Homo sapiens: one gene and its partners. The protein of the gene in region 4 purifies or fractionates together with the protein of the main gene of each other region. This does not show direct contact. Each region holds a gene or a part of one and is shown on either strand. Other genes may lie near its edges. The genes, in order: CRY1, PIP5K1A, ZCRB1 and YTHDC2.

Evidence for each region.
Region 1: the proteins of YTHDC2 (region 4) and CRY1 purify together in Homo sapiens (co-immunoprecipitation; one large-scale study listed by IntAct). This does not show direct contact.
Region 2: the proteins of YTHDC2 (region 4) and PIP5K1A purify together in Homo sapiens (co-immunoprecipitation; one large-scale study listed by IntAct). This does not show direct contact.
Region 3: the proteins of YTHDC2 (region 4) and ZCRB1 purify together in Homo sapiens (co-immunoprecipitation; one large-scale study listed by IntAct). This does not show direct contact.

Annotation. Positions count from the first base shown.
Region 1 is NC_000012.12:107,082,246-107,088,330, forward strand, and holds part of CRY1 (cryptochrome-1), read right to left. Parts: intron 1-6,085.
Region 2 is NC_000001.11:151,231,659-151,237,743, reverse strand, and holds part of PIP5K1A (phosphatidylinositol 4-phosphate 5-kinase type-1 alpha), read right to left. Parts: intron 6,074-6,085; coding exon 5,943-6,073; intron 5,497-5,942; coding exon 5,379-5,496; intron 5,194-5,378; coding exon 5,041-5,193; intron 3,548-5,040; coding exon 3,248-3,547; intron 1,187-3,247; coding exon 981-1,186; intron 1-980. UniProt on the Homo sapiens protein: Catalyzes the phosphorylation of phosphatidylinositol 4-phosphate (PtdIns(4)P/PI4P) to form phosphatidylinositol 4,5-bisphosphate (PtdIns(4,5)P2/PIP2), a lipid second messenger that regulates several cellular processes such as signal transduction, vesicle trafficking, actin cytoskeleton dynamics, cell adhesion, and cell motility.
Region 3 is NC_000012.12:42,310,355-42,315,194, forward strand, and holds the end of ZCRB1 (zinc finger CCHC-type and RNA-binding motif-containing protein 1), read right to left. Parts: intron 3,633-4,840; coding exon 3,520-3,632; intron 3,412-3,519; coding exon 3,336-3,411; intron 2,845-3,335; coding exon 2,713-2,844; 3' UTR 1,732-2,712; downstream 1-1,731.
Region 4 is NC_000005.10:113,567,493-113,573,577, reverse strand, and holds part of YTHDC2 (3'-5' RNA helicase YTHDC2), read right to left. Parts: intron 5,925-6,085; coding exon 5,729-5,924; intron 1-5,728. UniProt on the Homo sapiens protein: 3'-5' RNA helicase that plays a key role in the male and female germline by promoting transition from mitotic to meiotic divisions in stem cells.

The DNA of each region.
Region 1 (6,085 bases), on a different chromosome or scaffold from region 4:
ATAGTGGGAGACTTTAACACCCCACTGTCAATATTAGATCAATGAGACAGAAAATTAAGAAGGATATTCAGGACTTGAACTCAACTCCGGACCAAGCAGACCTAGTAGACATCTACAGAACTCTCTACCCCAAATCAACAGAATATACATTCTTCTCACACCACATAGCACTTATTCTAAAATTGACCAATAATTGGAAGTAAAACACTCCTCAGCAAATGCAAATAACGGAAATCATAACAAACAGTCTCTCAGACCACAGTGCAATCAAATTCGAATTCAGGATTAAGAAACTCACTCAAAACCACACAACTACATGGAAACTGAACAATCTGCTCCTGAGTGACTACTGGGTAAATAAAGAAATTAAGGCAGAAGTAAGTAAGTTCTTTGACACCAATGAGAACAAAGAGATAACATACCAGAATCTCTGGGACACAGCTAAAGCAGTGTTAAGAGGGAAATTTATAGCACTAAATGTCCATATCAGAAAGCAAGAAAGATCTAAAATCGACACCCTAACATCACAATTAAAAGAACTACAGAAGCAAAAGCAAACAAATTCAAAAGCTAGCAGAAGACAAGAAATAACTAAGATCGGAGCAAAACTGAAGGAGACAGAGACACGAAAAACCCTTCAAAAAAATCAATGAATCCAGGAGCTGGTTTTTTGAAAAGATTAACAAAATTGATAGACTGCTAGACAGACTAATAAATAAAAGAGAGAAGAATCAGATAGACACAATAAAAAATGATAAAGGGATATCACCACTGATCCCTCAGAAGTACAAACTACTATCAGAGAATACTATAAACACCTCTATGCAAATAAACTAAAAAATCTAGAAGAAATGGATAAATTCCTGGACACATACACTCTCCCAAGACTAAACCAGGAAGAAGTCACATCCCTGAATACACCAATAACAAGTTCTGAAATTGAGGCAGTAATTAGTAGCCTACCAACCAAAAAAAGCCCAGGACTAGATGGATTCACAGCCAAATTCTACCAGAGGTACAAAGAGGAGCTGGTACCATTCCTTCTGAAATTATTCCAAACAAAAGAAAAAGACGGACTGCTCCCTAACTCATTTTATATGAGGCCAACATCATTCTGATACCAAAACCTGGCAGACACAACAAAAAAAGAAAATTTCAGGTCAATATCCCCAATGAACATCAATATGAAAATACTCAATAAAATACTGGCAAACCGAATCTAGCAGCACATCAAAAAGCTTATCCACACGATCAAGGCAGCTTCATCCCTGGGATGTAAGGCTGGTTCACCATATGCAAATCAATAAATGTAATCCATCATATAAACAGAACCAATGACAAAAACCACACAATTATCTCAATAGATGCAGAAAAGGCCTTGGACAAAATTCAACACCGCTTCATGCTAAAAACTCTCAATAAACTAGGTATTGATGGAACGTTACTCAGAATAATAAGAGCTATTTATGACAAACCCATAGCCAATATCATACTGAATGGGCAAAAGCTGGAAGCATTCCCATTGAAAACTGGCACAAAACAAGGATGCCCTCTCTCACCACTCCTATTCAACATAGTATTGGAAATTCTGGCCAGGGCAATCAGGCAAGAGAAAGAAATAAAGGGTATTCAAATAGAAAGAAAGTCAAATTGTCTTTGTTTGCAGATGACATGATTGTATATTTAGAAAATTCCATTGCCTCAGCCCCAAAACTCCTTAAGCTGATAAGCAACTTCAGCAAAGTCTCGGGATACAAAATCAATCAGCAAAAATCACAAGCATTCCTATACACCAATAATAGAGAGTCAAGTCACGAATGAACTCCCATTCACAACTGCTACAAAGAAAATAAAATACCTAGGAATCCAACTTACAAGGGATGTGAAGGACCTCTTCAAGGAGAACTACAAACCACTGCTCAAAGAAATAAGAGAGGACACAAACAAATGGAAAAACATTCCATGCTCATGGATAGGAAGAATCAGCATCATGAAAATGGCCATACTGCCCAAAGTAATTAATAGATTCAATGCTATTCCCATCAAGTTACCATTGACTTTCTTCACAGAACTAGAAACAACTACTTTAAATTTCATATGGAACCAAAAAAAGAGCCTGTATAGCCAAGACAATCCTAAGCAAAAAGAACAAAGCTGGAAGCATCATGCTACCTGACTTCAAACTATACTACAAGGCTACAGTAACCAAAATAGCATGGTACTGGTACCAAAACAGATACATAGACCAGTGGAACAGAACAGAGGCCTCAGAAATAACACCACACACCTACAACCATCTGATCTTGACAAAAACAAGAAATGGGGAAAGGATTCCCTATTTAATAAATGGTGCTGGGAAAACTGGCTAGCCATATGCAGAAAACTGAAACTGGACCCCTTCCTTACACTGTATACAAAAATTCACTCAAGACGAATTAAAGACTTACATGTAAAACCTAAAACCATAAAAACCCTAGAAGAAAACCTAGGCAATACCATTCAGGACATAGGCATGGGCAAAGACTTCATGACTAAAACACCAAAAGCAATGGCAACAAAAGCCAAACTTGACAAATGGGATCTAATTAAACTAAAGAGTTTCTGCACAGTGAAAGAAACCATCATCAGAGTGAACAGACAACCTATAGAATGGGAGAAAATTTTTGCAATCTATCCATCTGACAAAGGTCTAATATCTAAAATCTACAAGGAACTTAAACAAATTTACAAAAAAAAAAAAACCCATCAAAAAGTGGGTGAAGGATATGAACAGACACTTCTCAAAAGACATTTATGTGGCCAAAAAACATGAAAAAAAAGCTCATCATCACTGGTCATTAGAGAAATGCAAATCAAAACCACAATGAGATACCATTTCATGCCAGTTAGAACAGCGATTATTAAAAGTCAGGAAACAACAGATGCTGGAGAGGATGTGAAGAAATAGGAACGCTTTTACACTGTTGGTGGGAGTGTAAATTAGGTCAACCATTATGGAAGACAGTGTGGTGATTCCTCAAGGATCTACAAACAGAAATATCATTTGACCCAGCAATCCCATTACTGGGTATATACCCAAAGGATTATAAATCATTCTACTATAATGACACAGGCACATGTATGTTTATTGTGGCACTGTTCACAATAGCAAAGACTTGGAACCAACCCAAATGCCCATCAATGATAGACTGGATAAAGAAAATCTGGCACATATACACTGTGGAATATGAAGCAGCCATAAAAAAGAATGAGTTCATGTCCTTTGCAGGGACATGGATGAAGCTGGAAAGCATCATTCTCAGCAAACTAACATAGGAACAGAAAACCAAACATCGCATGTTCTCCATAAGTAGGAGTTGAACAATGAGAACACATGGACACGGGGAGGGGAACAGCACATACCGGGGCCTGCCAGGGGTTGAGGGGCAAGGGGATGGAGACCATTAGGACAAATACCTAATGCATGTGGGGCTTAAAACCTAGATGACAGGTTGATGGGTGCAGCAAAACCACCATGGCACATGTATACCTACGTAACAAACCTGCAGGTTCTGTACATGTATCCCAGAACTTAAAGTATTAAAAAAAAAGCAAAAACTAAAGCTGCTTACAAGAGCTTAGAGAACTCAAAACAAAACAAAACAAAAACAAAAAACCTCATACACAAGAAAAACTTTAAAACTTTTTAGAGACTGGTTAAGAGGTTGTGATAAAAATGCTGATTAAAATATAGACAGTAAAGGCCACGTTCATGAGATCTCAAATAAAATTTTTAAAAACTAAAACAAAAAAATGGCCACATTATATGTTATGCTTGTTAACAAAAAACTTGGCTACATTGTATCCATGCCTAGGACTTTGTAAAAGGCTGAACTTAAGAGTAATGACTTAAGCTACCTGGCAAAAAAAAGTTTCTAAACAACAAAGCGTTCAAAAGGTGACATGGCTGCTTCTAACAGCCTACTATCAGATATGGGAGTTCAAAAAAAAGACAAAGTTAAAGCTAATAATTAAGAGAAAAACAGAGCATACAAATTTGAAAAATTTACAACCTAACCATGTGGTAGAGGGAAGTTTTCAGGAGAGAAATCCAAACTACCTAGCCCCAGGTACCAGGCCCTGACAGAACAGGTTGTTAAAGCAATTAACATGAATAAAAGAGAGCCAGTTGTTAACAGTCAAGACAATGGGGAAAAGCCCCCAAGACATTCCAGAAATCAAGGCTACCCCTTCCATCACAGGCTCAGAGGCCTCCTCGGGCAAAATGGTTTGGGAGGCCAGGCCCAGGGTGTTGCTGCCTTGTGCGGTCTTGAGATGCTACTCCCCACGTTCTGGCTGCTCTGGCTGCAGCCAGGGCTCAAAAGGCCCCAGGTACTGTCTGGACTGCCACTCCAGTGGGTGCAAACCATAGGCCTTGATGGTTTCCAAGTGGTGTTAAGTCTGCAGGTATACAGAATACAAGATCCATGGAGGTTTGGCAGCTTCCACCTAGATTTCACAAGATATGTCAAGAAGTCTGGCTGTCCAGGCAGAAGCCTGCCACAGCAGAGCTCCTACAGAGAGATTCTACTAGGCTGGTGCCAAGGGGAAATATGGGGTTACAGTCCCCACAGAGAACTCACTGTAGAGCAGCGGGAACAGGGGCACTGCCCTCCAGGACCCACAGTGGTGGCAGTCTAACTAAAGCCAAGAGAAGAAGAGAAAGGTGTGGTCAAATGTGTTAAATACTGTTAAGAAAAAGAAAAAGAAAGAAACAAAGAAAGAAAGAAAAAGAAAGAAAGGAAAAGAAAAGAGAAAAGAAAAAAAGAAAAGGAAAAGAAAAGTCAGGGAGTGGAAAGATTAAAAGTATCCTTTGGATGTAAACAGCATACACCCTCAGCCTGGAAAAGTGACAGACATTAGACTCCAATCCATGAGAGCAGCCATGTGGGCTATGCCCAACCAAGCCATAGAGATGCAGCTGCCCAAGGTTTTGAGAGCTCACCTCTTGGACCAGTGTGCTCAGGATGTGGGAGGGAGTGGAAAGTGAGGAAGTGGAAAGATTAAAAGAATCCTTTGGATGAAAACAGCACACACCCTCAGCCTGGAGAAGTGACAGACATTAGACTCCAATCCATGAAAGAAGCCATGTGGTCTGTGCCCAACCAAGCCATAGAGATGGGGCTGCCCAAGGCTTCAAGAGCCCACCTCTTGGACCAGTGTGCTCAGTTATGGGACAAGAGTCAAGCGAGATTATTTTACAGCTTTAAGATTTAATGTCTGCCCTTGTAGGTTTCAGACTTGGGTGGGTCCCTTTTTGTTGGTCAATTTGTCCCTTTTAAAATGAAAATATTTACCCAATGTCTGTTCCACCATTGTATCTTAAAAGTAGATAACTTGTTTTTGATCTTACAGGTTCATAGCTATAAGGAATCTGCCTTGAGTCTCGGATAAGATTTTAGACTTTGAGTTGATGTTGAAACTAGTTAAGATTTCTGGGGACTTTGAAAGAGATGATTATATCTTACAATAGAAAAAAGAGGGTGGGCATGGTGGCTTACACCTATAATCCCAGCACTTTCAGAGGCTGAGGCAGGAGAATTGCTTTAGCCCGGGAGTATGAGACAGCTTAGTGAGATCTCACCTCTACAAGTAATAAAAAAAATTACCTGGCCATGGTAATGCATGCCTGTGGTCCCAGCTACTTGGGAGGCTGAGGTGGGACAACTGCTTGAGCCCAGGTGGTTGAGGCTACAGTGAGCCATGATCACGCCTCTGCACTCCAGCCTGGGCAACAGAGTGATACCCCGTCTCAAAAATAAAAATAAAAATAATAAATAAATAAGACAAGATATTTGGGGGGCTAGAAGTGGAGTGATATAGTTTAGATATTTGTCCTTTTCAAATCTCATGTTAAAATGTTATCCCCAATGTTGGAGGTGAGAGGTGTTTGGAACATGAGATAAGATCCCTCATGAATGGCTTGGTGCTATCACGTAATGAGTGACTTCTCACTCTATTAATTAACAGAACAATTAATTATTAAAAAGAGACTGGTATCCCTCCCCTCTCTCTCTCGCCATGTGATATGTCAGCTCCACTTCCC
Region 2 (6,085 bases), on a different chromosome or scaffold from region 4:
GACACTTCAGTAATTACACTTACTAGGCATGATGAAGAAGGATGCCTTCCACAAAGAAGTCTATAACAATTTTTTTTTTTTTGACACAGGGTCCCATTCTTTTTGCCCAAGCTGGAGTGCAGTGGCATGTACAGTGGCTCACTGCAGCCTTGACCTCCTGGGCTCAAGCAATTCTGCCTCATCAGCCTCCTGAGTAGCTGGGACCACAGGTGCTCACCATCACACTCAGGTAATTTTTGAGTTTTTGTAGTGATGAGGTCTCATCATGATGCTCAGGCTGATCTCAAACTCCTGGACTCAAGTGATCCGCCTGCCTCAGCCTTCCAAAGTGTTGGGATTACTGGCATGAGCCACTGTGCCCAGCCCTAATAAAGTTCTAATATAATTTGCAGACATGCATTTAAGACTATAATTTTTTAAGTCTTTAACTCTTGAACAGCTCTCCTTCCCACATATACTATAAACCCGAAATTAATCTTCTTTTCATTTTGTATTAAGAAAGCTCGTTCAAGCTCATTCTATACTTCTGTCAACAATAATGTTACTGATCCAACTGCTGAGTCAAGGCTACTCCTTTCCAGAAGCTGGGTCCCTTCCTAAAGAAAAAGTGCTGTGGCCGGGCACGGTGGCTCACGCCTGTAATCCCTGCACTACGGGAGGCCAAGGCGGGTGGATCACCTGAGGTCAGGAGTTCGTAGACTAGTTTGCCCAACATGATGAAACCCCTTCTCTACTAAAAATACAAAAAATTAGCTGGGTGTGGTGGCAGGTGCCTGTAGTCACAGCTACTCAGGAGGCTGAAGCAGGAGAATCGCTTGAACCCAGGAGGTGGAGGTAGTAGTAGGCTGAGATCGTGCCATTGCACATCAGCACATCAGCCTGGGCAACAAGAGTGAAACTAAAAAAAAAAAAAAAAAAAAAAGAAAAGAAAAGTGCTGTGGGCCTATGTTCTCCCCCCTAGTGGCCCTGAGCCCACTTACTGGTCATCAGTCTCCATGGTACCACCCCGTCGAGCCTCTCCCTGGATGGATTCCATGGCTGTGGAATACAGAGCCTTTTGGGGGGCCGGTCTTCGAGTATCAACTGAGTACTGTGTTTCACTGCTTAAGGGCTCTCGTTGTGCATGATCTATATTATGGATTGACATCAAGAGGCTGTAATCCATTATCTTGAAGCTCTGCAGCACCTAATGGAAGGAAAAAAACATGATCTGAGCCTTGGAAGAAATAAAAATATTTTTCAGGATCTCACAATTTTTTTGTTTTTTTGAGAAAGGGTATCAATCTGTAACCCAGGCTAGAGTGCAGTGGTGTGATCTCGGCTCACTGTAGCTGCAACCTCCCAGGCTCAAAATATCCACCTACTTCAGCCTCCCAAGTAGCTGGGACTACAGGCACACACCACTACACCTGCCTAATTTTTTATTTTTCATAGAGACGGTTTCACCATGCTGCCCAGCTGGTCTCTAATTTCTGGGCTCAAGGGATCTGCCTATCTCAGTCTTCCAAAGTGCTGGGACTATTGGTATGAGCCACCACGCCTGGCTTGACAGCTTTCATGATGTAATTATTTAATTTAGCCTTACAGTGAACCTGTAAGGCTAAATTTTTTTTTTTTTTTTTTTGAGACGGAGTCTTGCTTTGTCGCCAGGCTGGAGTACAGTGGCGCGATCTTGGCTCACTGCAACCTCCAACTCCCTGGTTCAAGCGATTTTCCTGCCTCAGCCTCCCAAGTAGCTGGGATTACAGGCACGTGCCACCACACCCAGCTAATTTTTGTATTTTTAGTAGAGTTGGGGTTTCACCATGTTGGCCAGGCTGGTCTCGAACGCCTGACCTGGTGATCTGCCTGCCTCAGCCTCCCAAAGTGCTGGGATTACAGGCGTGAGCCACCACGCCCGGCCTGGTTAGTCTTTATTTACATACCCTTAGCTTTCTCTCATTTGAGTTAATATAATTTTTCCAAGTCCCACTGCCTAGCCCACAAGACCATCTTTGTTCTTTCCATGTATGTCTCCATGAAGAGAACACTACCTTCTCAAAAGAACAAGGAATACATATTTGTGCTGTGAAGATTCCACAATGAGGTTCTGGTAAAGTACACTTTGTGACAGAACAGATCTGTGGTAGGACCTTGTATGACTAGCTTCAATTCAGTTAAACATTTACTGAATCTCCACCATGTAGGCACTGTGCCTCCTTACAGAGATATAAAGATATTAAAGAGAGAGTTTCTGTCTTCAAGGACATTATACATTTAGAAAGGGATACAAATGTAAAATAAACACAATACAGTTTAATATGTGCAACAGTGGGAAGTGTTCACATGACAGAAGAGTACAGAGGTCAAGAGTGATATCTAGGCCGGGTGCGGTGGCTCACACCTGTAATCCTAGCACTTTGGGAGGCCAAGGCAGGCAGATCATTTGAGGTCAGGAGTTTGAAACCAGCGGGACCAACGTGGTGAAACCCTGTCACTACTAAAAATACAAAAACGACCCAGGCGTGGTGATGGGCGCCTGTAATCCCAGCTACTTGGGAGGCTGAGGCAGGAGAATCGCTTGAATCTGGGAGGTGGAAATTGCAGTGAGCCGAGATCGTGCCATTGCACTCCAGCCTGGGTGACAAGAGTGAAACTCCATCTCAAAAAATAAAAAATAAAGTAAAATGTAGATACATTTATCCATTGGTGACAGGGGCAGCATGAGAGGATGAAATAGGATAAAAAGTTAAGGTAGCTTGTTGAGAAACAAAGCTAGGGAGATGAGAGTCAGAAAATGGTTTGATTAGAATGCCAAACATCTGAAATCCCTATTGAGAGCAACAGCAAATGGACTGAAGATCGATATTGAAAGCCCAAGTGGGGTTGGATATCATAATTCTGTAGATGCCAGTATACACGGTTGTGTAATATTCTTCAGCAGCACTCAGCTTCCAAAATATAAATTTGGATTTGGCAGCCAGGACCAAAATCTGAGGAAGGATGATGTTGGTATGAAAATAAGCAGAACATTTGACTGTGAGGCCCAGGCTAGCTAGAGAAGGAAATAAATCCCATTGTGGGAGGATAAACGGGGAGAAAGTAAAAATGTAAAGGAATGGCAATGAACTAATTAAGACTTATTTTAAATACAGCCCAGGACATACAGTGCTAAGGAACAGAGTTCCATCTCCCACAAACTTAATGCCTAAGAACAATCAAGCTGTTTTAGTAACTGAGATTTTTGATGTCTAAGTAACAAACTCACCAAACAGTCACGCTGCAGGGTCTTACAGAGAGCGTTGTACATGTCAGCATCCAAAAAAAGACCATCAGGGATGTCTTGTAAGAAGTCTAGGTCTTTAAATGTGGGAAGAGGCTTCTCTCGCTCTTTCTGGGAAGCCCGCCGTTTGTAGGTTGAGCCTTTGAGGTCATATTTGATATGCATTTTTACCGATCTTGGTAAAAGATTGTTCATCACCACAATCCGAATGTTCTTGCCACCTGCCTGCACACAGTACAGTCCATAGAATTTAGGCAGCAAAGTCCGAGGGTTCTGGTTGAGGTTCTGAGAACACAAAAGGAAACAGAAGTAGGAGAACAACTTAGCTGATTTTCAGTGAAACTCACCAGTAAAAGTTACCACCCATCCTCCCTTTATCTCCTATATGAGATTTAGACACAATGTGTCCATAAACCTACATCATATATGCTTTACATTTCCCTATGCATCTATTTCAATGGTAAGTTCACCATCAAGCTGTGCCACAGACTCTCCAATACAGAAATCAGCCAGGATACCAATATAAGATGGATATATTTCTTCAGAGAGATTTAAGAGAAGACGACACTCTCTGCCCTGGGTATAGTATATTCTTGGGGATGGTAAGGCAGGTAAGGAGAGTTACCTAACTTCTCCAGAACCTCCAATAGCAATCAGAGTAAGGCTGCAGAGAGTATTACCAAGGGAAATAACCTACCTCATTCCCCAAACTAGAAGCTGAACTAAGAACAGAAGACGAAAATAGCCAGGTGCAGTGGCTCATGCCTGTAACCCCAGCACTTTGGGAGGCCAAACAGGAGGATCACTTGAGCTCAGGAATTTGAGACCAGCCTGGGTAACATAGCAAGACCTCATCTCTACTAAAAATTTATAAAAATTAGGCCGGGCACGGTGGCTCACGCCTGTAATCCCAGCACTTTGGGAGGCCAAGGCAGGCGGATCATGAGGTCAGGAGTTCAAGACCAGCCTGACCAACATGGTGAAACTCCATCTCTACTAAAAAATAAAAAATTAGCTTGGCATGGTGGCGCATGCCTGTAATCCCAGCTACTCAGGAGGCTGAGGCAGGAGAATTGCTTGAACCTGGGAGGCGGAGGTTGCAGTGAGCCGAGATTGTGCAACTGTACTCCAGCTTGGACAACAAAGCGAGACTCCGTCACGAAAAAATAAAAGAAAATAAGTTTATAAAAATTAGCCAGGTGTGGTGGTGCGTGCCTTTAGTCCCAACTACGTGAGAGGCTGAGGTGGGAGGATCACTTGAGCCTGGGAGATCAACAACACTTAAAACAGAACAGATAAACAAAACCCCTTTTACCATAGAGAGGCAAAAGAAATGGGGTGAAAAGCACAAAACTGAACAACATTTTTTTTTTTTTTTTTTTGAGACGGAGTCTTGCTCTGTTACCCAGGCTGGAGTGCAGTGGCAGGATCTCGGCTCACTGCAAACTTCGCCTCCCAGATTCACGCCATTCTCCTGTCTCAGCCTCCTGAGTAGCTGGGACTACAGGCGCCCGCTACCACGCCTGGCTAATTTTTTGTATTTTTAGTAAAGACGAGGTTTCACCATGTTGGCCAGGATGGTCTTGATCTCCTGATCTTGTGATCCTCTTGCCTCGGCCTCCCAAAGTCCTGGGATTACAGGCATGAGCCACCGTGCCTGGCCTGAACTACACTCTTAAGATAGAAGTGCTGACACTGTTTTACCCTGCTGAAGACAGCCTCCCCAGCCTTGCCCAGAAGTGAGCAGCACAGGTGGACAGTGCTTCTCTCTCCCTTACCATGTAGTATCCTGGAAGCAGCTTCTGCAGAAATTCCGCCTCTTTATGTTGGACTGTCTTAATAATGAACTCATCGTCGCTGGACACATAGAATAGGGAACCACTAGCTCCAGAGCTACAGAGTTCAATCAGCGGCTCACTGCAGAGGGAATACTGGGGCAAACAGAGAAGAACTAAGAGATTTAGACACATCAGGGCCTTGCCCAACACAAAAATCAACTACAGATGCAATTCTTTTCTAAATAAAAACCAGAGCGAGACTGTGGAGAAAAGGGGCCTTCCTTTGGGAATATCCCTCTGATACTGGAGTCACAGTGTCCTGATATCCAGATGCTTACCAAGTAATCATCGGGCCGGATACCAAATAGCTCCCGGAAGTAGCGGAAGGCAACAGGTGCATAGGTCTTGAAACGAAAGTCATTGTAGTGATGAGCAGGGGTCAGGTTGCTCCCTTCACTGTGGGGTTAAACAGAGGTAGCCATAACTTGCCAGTCCCTATCATCCAGAGAATCTACCTTGCGAAGACACTCAGAGTCACCTCATGGTGGGGGGAGTGGGGGAATACATTCCTCCTAAGATAATCACAGCCCTTCTTAGATGAGTTAGTGAGACAATGGCACAGCATGGACAGCAAGACATAAGAAGAAGAAGAAATCACACTGCCTCCTATCCAATGCATTAGGTTGTTTTTTACGGGTCAATCCATAGGACAGAGGCTAATGGAAGCATCTAGAGGACAGTATCTGCTCTCCGAACTCTCTAGTCCCACATCGCCCTGATTGTAACCAGGTTAAGAAATGGACACATGTCTAAATTGTCCGACCTGAACCCCTAAAACTGCCCTGGGCTGATTTGAAAAGGCCACATTTCCAGGACATGCTCCTGAACATTAAACTCTGTACCTGGGAAAGAAGATACTCTCAACCACGTAGAAATCTTGCATGAGGACATCACGCTCTGGTTTGGTACTCAGGCTCCCCACAGTGTGGGTAATGCCTAACTGGATGGCACCTTTCAAGGCTGATGAGGTTGTCTGAGAAACAAG
Region 3 (4,840 bases), on a different chromosome or scaffold from region 4:
TCTTAGTTTTCATATAACTCAGGTTAAGTAAATCGTCTACGATCAGCAGCTTTAAGTGGCAATATGGCCATAGAAACCTAAGTGTATCTGTCAAAAAAAAGAGCATACTCTTAACCATTCTGCACTGCTACTTTAGCAGTGAGCATTTCCCCCTTCCATATGCAGATATGTATCCATATATAGCAAGTGTTTTACACTTGACATTGTATCTGGAATGTTTTCTCATACAATTAAAAATTCTTTGAAACATTTTAATGCTTCCTAATAATCTATTATTGTGAATGCATCATGCTTTAATTTGCTGTTGACAATTCTTTTTCTTTTTTTCTTTTTTTGAGACAGAGTCTCACTCTGTCACCCAGGGCTGGAGTGCAGTGGTGCGATCTGGGCTCACTGCAGCCTCTGCCTCCCTGGTTCCAGCGATTCTTGTGCCTCAGTCTCCTGAGTAGCTGGAATTACAGGCATGTGTCACCATGGCTTGCTAATTTTTGCATTTTTAGTACAGATGGGGTTTCACCATGTTGGCCAGGCTGGTCTCGAACTCCTGGCCTCAAGTGATTCACCTGCCCTGGCCTCCCAAAATGCTGGGATTACAGGTGTGAGCCACCGTGCCCGGCTGACAATTGTTTTGAATTTTAAATAATATGTTTGTACATAAATAAATACCTGCATTTCTGATTAGAACCCTAGGATAAAATAGAATGTAATTTCTAGTTAAAAAAATAGAACATACTTAACATTTGATATTTATTGTTAAATTACCCTTCAGAATTGATCCAGGGCATGTATGCGATACCACAAGTGCTTTTAATGCCATCCTCACCAACACTGAAGTGTTTTTTTCCTAATTAGGTTAAAATTGATGTATCACTGGTTGTAATAGATTTCCTTAATAAGTAATGATAAACTTTTTTACTTTTTTTTTTTAAAGACAGGATCATGCTGTTTCCCAGGCTGTCCCGCCTCAGCCTCCCAAGTAGCTAGGACAACAGGTGTGAGTGGCTAATGTTATTTTTTGTAAAGACAGTCTCCTTATGTTCCCCAGGCTGGGCTCAAACTCCTGGCCTCGAACACTCCTCCTGTCTTGACCTCCCAACGTGTTGGGATTACAGGTATGAGCCACTACACCTGGCCTATTTTATCTTCTAACTATTCTATTTGTCACTAATTTATTTCCTATTAGAGTCTGTTTTCAGGTATTCATAGAAACTTTTATATATTTGTGGCAAATCTTTTCCCAATTATTTGCTTTAAAATGGTAGGCCGGGCACAGTGGCTCATGCCTGTAATCCCAGCACTTTGGGAGGCCGAGGCGGGTGGATCACAAGGTCAGGAGTTTGAGACTAGCCTGACCAACATGGTGAAACCCCCAACTCTACTAAAAAAATACAAAAATTAGCTGGGTGTGGTGGCACGTGCCTGTAATCCCAGCTACTTAGGAGGCTGAGGCAGGAAAATGGTCTGAACCGGGGAGGTGGAGGTTGCAGTGAGCTGAGATCGCACCACTGTACTCCAGCCTGGACGACAGAGTGAGACTTCGTTTCAAAAATAAATAAATGAATAAAAATTAAAAAAAAAAAACAAACCAAAACTGTTGTGGTATTTGACTAATGGCCAAACAGATGGTTGAGTACTGCATTCAATCATTGTCTTGTTGCAATCTGGAAGATTCTTTGCTGGTGGGTGGTTAACACTTTGTAGTTTTCAAAGTGGAAACACAAGATTTTATAATGAAATTTCAAATATCTTTTTAATATATTTTTTCTTGGGATGACAATAATAATATTACTATGATAGTATTAACTTATTTCTATTGCTTTTACTAGTTAAAAAAGTAATGGGCATTCTTACAAAGTTAAACAATATAGAAATATACAAAGCAGAAAATTAAAGGCTCTCTAATCCCATTACCATATACCCACCTGCAGACAGAATGGGAAGATTTAGTCATAAATACAAAGACAATACATGGAAAAAAAATAGACAATTATTAACTCTAGGAAAAAACGTAATCATAGCATATTCCTTGGCTCAGAAATGAAAAGTATTTACTTGGTTATTAAAAAAGATATATATGGATTCCCCCAAATTTTTAATACAGCCACATTGGGAATATTGAGGAAGGTAGGAGAAGTATAAGAGATTGAATAATTCTCCTTTATTCTTTTATTAAGTGACTGAAATATATGTACTTTATTTAGCTACATGTGTGCACATGTAAGTAGTTTCTTCTAGGGAATGGAATTTGGTGCTATGGGTAGGGCAGACAAATAACACCTGTGTTTGATTTTAAGCCTTTTAGAGCTATGTTACTTTATATTTTATAGGTATTTATAATTTATTTTATAGGTATTTACAATTTATCCAGATTGGGATAAAGCTACAAGAAATATGATGACAAAACACCCATATTTAAAGACAAAATTCTCTTGAAAAGTTTATTAATATAAGTAACAATAAATCATTCAACTTTTCGGTCTTCAGGAAGTTTGTTTTAAGGATTAATTTCAGAAGTCCTCATGTAAACAAATCAGGCATGAATAAAGCCCTTATAATGAACTTTTCAAATAAATTTTTAAAATATCTTTTTTCTTGGGATGACAATAATAGTATTAACATGATAGTATTAATTTTTCTTATTTTTATTAAAATTAGCTCTTCAAGATTGTTACTAACAAATCTTGATTTTTATTACTGTGCTGGGGCAAGATTTTAATCACTAAGTTCTTCCTCATCACTGAAATATGTGCTTTTCTTTATCCTTGGGCGTCTTGAATCATCTGATGTTGAGGGGACTCCTGAACTGGGTTTCCATTTTTTTTGTTCTTCTTCAATTTTGGCTTGCTGTGATTCAAAAAACAAAACAAAACCAATAACCTGTTTAATATTATTTATGGTTCATTAATTCAAAACATGGCAAAAACATACCACAAATGCCATTACTTCCCACCCTCCCAGTCCATGCAGACAATAAGATCTGCTCCCTTCCCCTGAGTTCTGTCTCATCTCAAAATCTTACACAAAATTATCCTAGGCAATTTCTTAAAAAAATCTTTTCTGTTGGGCTATATTCACTTTGAGCAAATAGTTCTGCTCATTTCTTTAATGAAAAAAGATTAAGATAGTAAGTGTTGTGGGGCCCTTAAAATCTAGGAAGAACCAATGGGAACTTTTCATTCACACTGGCTAAGTACCTCAGAGAAACAGCTTGTCTCCTAAGGCTTAGGAGGTTAGGGGGAAAAAGAGAGGTTGCCATGAGGTGATCAATGAAGTAAGCAAGCACTATAAACCAAGTCAACTATTGTATGATGCCTTTTAAAAGAACAATTTAATACCTGGAATGCTATGGCCTGACTGAGGCTGTCAAGAGCAGGATCCTCCCCTTCATCTTCACTTTCTTCTACTTCCTCACTTAAATAAAGAAAAACAAATTGGAATGTAACCAACCAATAATCAAAAGCAACCAACCAAAAGACAAAAGCAACATGATGATGTATTTAGTAAGAATAATATACATACATTTCTTCTTCTGGTTCAGGAGCTTTCTTTTTTTTCTTTTTTTCTTTCTTCTTTGGAGGCTCACGTTCTCCGAGCATATTTTTCGGACAGGCATAACTTAAGTGTCCACTTTCCTTTTGTTTCCCATTAAAAAGGAAAGGAAAAATACCATATTTGATGTTATTTATAAAAACTTGCCTGGTACCTTATTACTAAAAAGTTTTCAAATTTAAAAAGGAATATTCCCATACTGGGACTATACAGAAGACATTAATGATAAAACCCAGTACTTTAATATTTAGAAGGTGATATTATAACTCTCAGTTATTTTAACATTTAGGACTATTTAGTAGTTTTACTAAGAGTAGTGGTAGTAGTCTTCTTTCAAACATTTAAATCTCAAAATTCAAGATATAAAACAGTTTGGTCGGGCGCGGTGGCTCACGCCTGTAATCCTAGCACTTTGGGAAGCCGAGGTGGGTGGATCACCTGAGGTCTGGAGTTTGAGACCAGACTAACCAAAATGGTGAAATCCCGTCTCTACTAAAAAAAAAAAAAAAAAAAAAAAAAAAAAAAAAATTAGTTGGGCATAAGTGGCACACACCTGTAGTCCCAGCTACTCAGGAGGCTGAGGTAGGAGAATTGCTTAAACCCAGGAGGTGGAGGTTGCAGTGAGCTGAGATCATTCCGTTGCACTCCAGCCTGGGTGACAAGAGCAAAACTCCGTCTCAAAAAAAAAAAATCAAAATTTAAATGGATCATTTACCCTAAATGTAAACATCTTAAGTTATTGATAAAACGAGGATAAAACTATTCCTGTTAATTTCCAAGATGTTGCTTAATACTCTGTTGGGCTGGGCAGGCTGAGGCAGGTGGGTCACCTTAGGAAGTGAGTTCAAGACCCGCCTGGCCAACATGGGGAAACCCTGTCTCTACTAAATATACAAAAATTAGCTGGGCTTGGTGGCATATGCCTGTAATCCCAGCTACTCAGGAGACTGAGGCACAAGAATTGATCGAACGCGGGAGGCAGAGACTGCAGTGAGCTGAGATTGTGCCACCGCACTCCAGCCTAGGCAACAGAGCAAGACCCTGTCTCAAAAAACAAACAAAAAACCAAAAAACAAATGGAAAATTTCTTCCTCACTTTTCCTATGAATTACTTCCGTTTTTTCCCTTTTATATCCTGACTACACTTGCACTATCCAATTACAGTAGTCACTAGCCAGCCAATGTGGCTACTGAGAACTTGTCTGAATTGATACGTACTGTAAAGGTAAAATACACATTGGATTTCTGAAGACTTAGTAACATACGTGGCTTGCATTATATTCTCATTTGA
Region 4 (6,085 bases):
TAGAACCAAGCTGGAAAACATACTTCAGGATATCATCCAGAACTTCCCTAACCTAGCAAGACAGGCCAACATTCAAATTCAGGAAATCCAGAGAACCCTAGTATAATACTCCATGAGAAGATCAACCCCAAGACAAAAAAATCATCAGATTCTCCAAGGTCTAAAGGAAAGAAAAAATGTTAAGGGCAGCCAGAGAGAAAGGCCAGGTTACATACAAAGGGAAGCCCATCAGACTAACAGTAGACCTCTAAGAGGAAACCCTACAAGCCAGAAGAGATTGGGGGCCAATATTCAACACTCTTAAAGAAAAGAATTTCCAACCCAGAATTTCATATCCAGCCAAACTGAGCTTTATAAGTGAAGGAGAAATAAGATCCTTTTCAGACAAGCAAATGCTGAGGGAATATGTCACCACCAGGCCTGCCTTGCAAGAGCTCCTGAAGGAAGCACTAAATATGAAAGGGAAAAATCCATTACCAGCCACTACAAAAACACACGGAAGTACACAAACCAGTAACACTATGAAGCAACCACATAAACAAGTCTGCAAAATAACCAGCTAGCATCATGACAGAATCAAATTCACACATAACAATACATAACCATAAAAGTAATATTGAAGGTAAATGGGGTAAATGTCCCAAGTGAAAGGCACAGAATGGCAAACTGGATAAAGAGCCAAGACCCACGAGTATGCTGTCTTCAAAAGACCCATCTCACATGCAAAGCCACACATAGGCTCAAAAGAAAGGGATGGAGGAAAATTTACCAAGCAAATGGAAAACAGAAAAAGGCAGTGGTTGCAATCCTAGTTTCTGATAAAACAGACTTTAAACCATAAAGATCAAAGAAAGGCATTACACAGTGGTAAAGGGCTCAATTCAACAAAAAGAACTCATGATCCTAAATATATATGCAAGCTAATACAGGAGCACCCAGATTCATTAAACAAGTTCTTAGAGACCTACAAAGAGATTTAGACTCCCATACAATAATAGTGGGAGACTTTAACACCCCACAGACAACATTAGACAGATCATCAAGACAGAAAATTAACAAAGATATTCAGGACCTGAACTCAGCTCTGGATCAAGTGGACCTGATAGATATCTACAGAACTCTCTACCCAAAAACAAGAGAATATACATTCTTCTCATCGCCACATGGCATTTATTCTAAAATTGATCACATAACTGGAAGTAAAACACTCCTCAGTAAATGTAAAAGAAGTAAAATCATAACAGTCTATCAGACCACAGCACAATCAAATTAGAACTCAAGACTAAGACATTCACTCAATACCACACAACTACATGGAAACTGAACAACCTGCTCCTGAATGACTCTTGGGTAAATAACAAAATTAAGGCAGAAATCAAGAAGTTATTTGAAAGTAATGAGAACAAAGAGACAATGTACCACAATCTCTGGGACACAGCTAAAGTAGTGTTAAGACGGAAATTCATAGCACTAAATGAACACATCAGAAAGCTAGAAAGATTTCAAGTTAACCACCTAACATCTCAATTTAAAAAATTAGAGAACAAAGAGAAAACAAACCCAAGCTAGCAGAAGACATGAAATAACTAATATCAGAGCAGAAGTGAAGGCGATAGAGACAGGAAAAACCCTCCAAAAAAATCAGCAAATCAAAAAGCTGGTTCTTTTTAAAAATCAATAAAACAGACTGCTAGCTAGATTAATAAAGAAGAAAAGAGAGAAGAATCAAATAGACACAATAAAAATGATACAAGGGATCTCACCACTGACCCCATGGGAATACAAACTACCATCAAAGGATACTATAAACACCTCTATGCAAATAAACTAGAAAATCTAGAAGAAAGAGGTAGATTCCTGGACACATACATACTCCTGAGACTGAACCAGAAAGAAGCTGAATCCCTGAATAGACCAATAACAAGTTTGGAAATTGAGGCAGTAATAAAGAGCCTACCAACCAAAAAAGCCCAACCAGATGGATTTACAGCTGAATTCTACCAGAAGTACATAGAAGAGCTGATACCCTTTCTTTTGAAACTATTCCAAACAACTGAAAAGGAGGGACTCCTCCATAACTCATACTGTAAGACCAGCATCATACTGATACCAAAGCCTGACAGAGATACAACAAAAAAGAAAACTTCAGGCCAATATCCCTGATGAATATCAGTGCAAAAATTCTCAATAAAATATGGGCAAACCAAATACAGCAGCACATCTAAATGCTTGTCCACCACAATCAAGTTGGCTTCATCCCTGGGATGCAAGGCTGGTTCAACATATGCAAATCAATAAACATAATTCATCACATAAACAGATCTAAAGACAAAAACCAAATGATTATCTCAATAGATGCAGAAAAGGCCTTCAATAAAATTCAACATGTCTTCGTGTTAAAAACTCAATAAACTAGGTAGTAAAGGAACATATCTCAAAATAATAAGAGCTATTTATGACAAACCCACAGCCAGTATCATACTGAATGGGCAAAAGCAGGAAGCATTCTCCTTGAAAACTGTCACAGTACAAGGATGTCCTCTCTCATCACTCTTATTCAACATAGGATTGGAAGTTCAGGCCAAGGAAATCAGGCCAGAGAAAAAAATGAAGAGTATTCACGTCGGGTGGGTGCAGTGGCTCATGCCTATAATCCCAGCACATTGGGAGGCCGAGGTGGTAGATCACTTGAAGTCAGGAGTTTGAGACCTGCCTGGCCAACATGGTGAAATGCCAAATCTACTAAAAATACAAAAAAAATTAGTGGAGTATGGTGGCAGACGTCTGTAATCCCAGCTACTCCGGAGGCTGAGGCAGCAGAATTGCTTGAACCCAGAAGGCGGAGGTTGCAGTGAGCTGAGATCACACCGCTGCACTCCAACCTGGGCGGCAAAGTGAGACTCCATCTCAAAATAAAGAAATAAAGAGTATTCAAATAGGAAAAGAGGAAGTCAAATTATCTTTGTTTGTAGTTGATATGATCTACATCTAGAAAACCCATTATCTCAGTCCAAAAGCTTCTTAAGCTGATAAGCAACTTCAGCAAAGTCTCAGGATATAAAATCAATGTGCAAAAATTGCTAGCATTCCTATATACCAACAACAGGCAAGCAGAGAGCCAAATCATGAATGAATTCACATTCACAATTGCAACAAAAATAAAATACATAGGAAAAGGCCAAGCATGATAGCTCACGCCTGTAATTGCAGCACTTTGGGAGGCCAAGGCAGGCAGATGGATCACCTTGAGGTCTGGAGTTCAAGATCACCCTGCCCAACATGGTGAGACCCTGTCTCTAGTAAAAATACAAAAATTAGCCAGGAATTGTGGTGCGTGCCTGTAATCCCAGCTACTCAGGAGTCTCAGGCAGGAGAATTGCTTGAACCCAGGAGGCGGAGGTTACAGTGAGCTGAGATTGTGCCACTGCACTCCAGCCTGGGTGACAGAGCAAGACTCCATCTCAAAAAAATGAAATAAAATAAAATAAAGTAAAATAAAATACCTAGGAATACAGCTAATAAGGGAAGTGAAGGACCTCTTCAAGGAGAACTACGTATCACTGCTCAAAGAAATCAGAGAGGACATAAACAAATGGAAAAACGTTCCATGCTCATGGATAGGAACAATCAATATCATGAAAATGGCCATACTGCCCAGAGAAATTTACAGATTCAATGCTATTCCCATTATACTGACAGTCTTCACAGACTTAGAAGAAACGATTTCAAAATTCTTATGGAACCAAAAGAGACCATATAGCCAAGACAATCCTAAGCAAAAAGAACAAAGCTGAGGCATCACGCTACCCGACTTCAAGCTATACTACAGGGCTACAGTAGCCAAGACAGCATGGTACTGGTATAAGAACAAACACATAGAATGATGGAACAGAATAGAGAACTCAGAAATAAGACCACACACTTACAACCGTCTGATTTTTAACAAACCTGACAAAAACAAGCAATGAGGAAAGGACTCCTTATTTAACAAATGGTGCTGAAAGAACTGGTTAGCTATATGCAGAAAACTGAAACTGGGCCCCTTCCTAACACCTTCGACAAAAATTAACTCAAGATGGATTAAAGACTTAAATGTAAAACTCTAAACCATAAAAACCCTCGAAGAAAATCTAGGCAATACCATTCAGGACATAGGCACAGGCAAAGATTTCATGATAAAAACGCCAAAAGCAATTGCAGCAAAAGCAAAAATTGACAAATGGGATCTAATTAAACTAAAGTTTCTGCACAGCAAAAGAAACAACTATCATCAGAGGAAACAGACAACCTACAGAATGGGAGAAAATTTTTGCAATCTATCCATCTGACAAAGGTCTAATATCCAGAGTATACAAGGAACTTAAGCAAATTTACAAGAAAAAACAACCCATTAAAAAGTGGGCAAAGGACACGAACAGACACTTTTCAAAAGATGTACATGTGGCCAACAAACATATGAAAAAAAGCTCAACGTCACTGATCATTACTGGAATGCAATTCAAAACCACAATGAGATCAGAATTGCTATTATTAAAAAGTCAAAAAACAACATGCTGGTGAGGTTGTAGAGAAAAAGGAACACTTTTACACTACTGTGTAATTAAATTACACTAGTGTAAATTAATTCAACCACCATGGGAGACAGCATGGTGATTCTTCAAAGACCTGGAGGCAGAAATACCATTTCTGGGTAAATACCCAAAGGAATATAAATCATTCTATTATAAAGATAAGTACATTTGTATGTTCAGTGCAGCATTATTCACAATAGTAAAGACATGGAATCAACCCAAATGCCCATCAATGGTAGGCTAGATAAAGAAAATATGGTACATATACACCATGGGATACTATGCAGCCATAAAAAGGAATTAGATCATGTCCTTTGCAGGGACATGGCTGAAGTTGGAAGCCATTATCCTCAGCAAACTAATGCAGGAATGGAAAACCAAACACCGCATGTTCTCACTTATAAGTGGGAGCTGAATGATGAGAACACATGGACACAGACAGGGGAACAACACACACTGGGGCCTACTGGGGGTGTGTGGTAGAGGGTAGGGAGAACATCAGGAAGAATAGCTAATGGACACTGGGCTTGATAGATACATGATGTCATGATCTGTGCAGCAAACCACCATGGCACACCTTTACCTATGCAACAAAACTGCACATCTTGCACATGTACCCCTGAACTTAAAATAAAAGTTGAAGGAAAAAAATGCATTATGCCACTTCAATGTGATATACTATTTTGCAGTCATTAATATAAAATACTAAAAATATTTTTGATATCTCTGTAATGAAAATAACAAAATATAAAATAACAGTTTGGGTGAAATAATTTAAAATATGTAAACATGTAGAAAAAATATAACATTAAAAAGTGTTAGCATGAGAAAAATGAGATTATGGGTGGCTATTATTTCTTTTACAATTAACTTTATTTACGTTAAACTATCATTTAAATTCAAGTGGAAAAGAAAAATTTCTTCCCAACAGCAAGATTAATAAAAAATGCACAAATAAACATCAAGTTACCTTATAAATAAATTTCAAAAACAGTAGTATACCTTAGTATTTCCTAATTAGTCTTAGTACATCAAAATAGAGCTGCTACTATATAAATCTTTATAATTTCATTATTTGGTTTAGTAAAATAATTTCATTATTTGGTAAAAAAAAAAAATTCATTTCAAATAGATTTTTATTTCCTTAATACATTTACCTCTAAAGGATGAAGGTTCCTGAAGAGCATTACTTGCCAATCTAGCTGGTCCACAGAATACCAATATAGTGACAGGCGTCACTGCTGAACAACATCTAATATTAGCTATTCTATGGGCTCTGGTCATTTCATCATAAATAAGCCAATCTGTGGGCAGTGCCTTAATTGCTGCAGCTTGACCATTGGCTGGAGGAATCTATTAAGAAAATAAATTTTAAAAATTGTTAATTGTGTTTATCACCTAGTTTATTGGAAATACTTTTAAAATGTAAAGTCTCTCAATGAAATAGATGATGTATATTAGTACGTAAGCAAAAATTAAAACAAGTCATCGCTCATGTAGTTCGTACAAAAGTA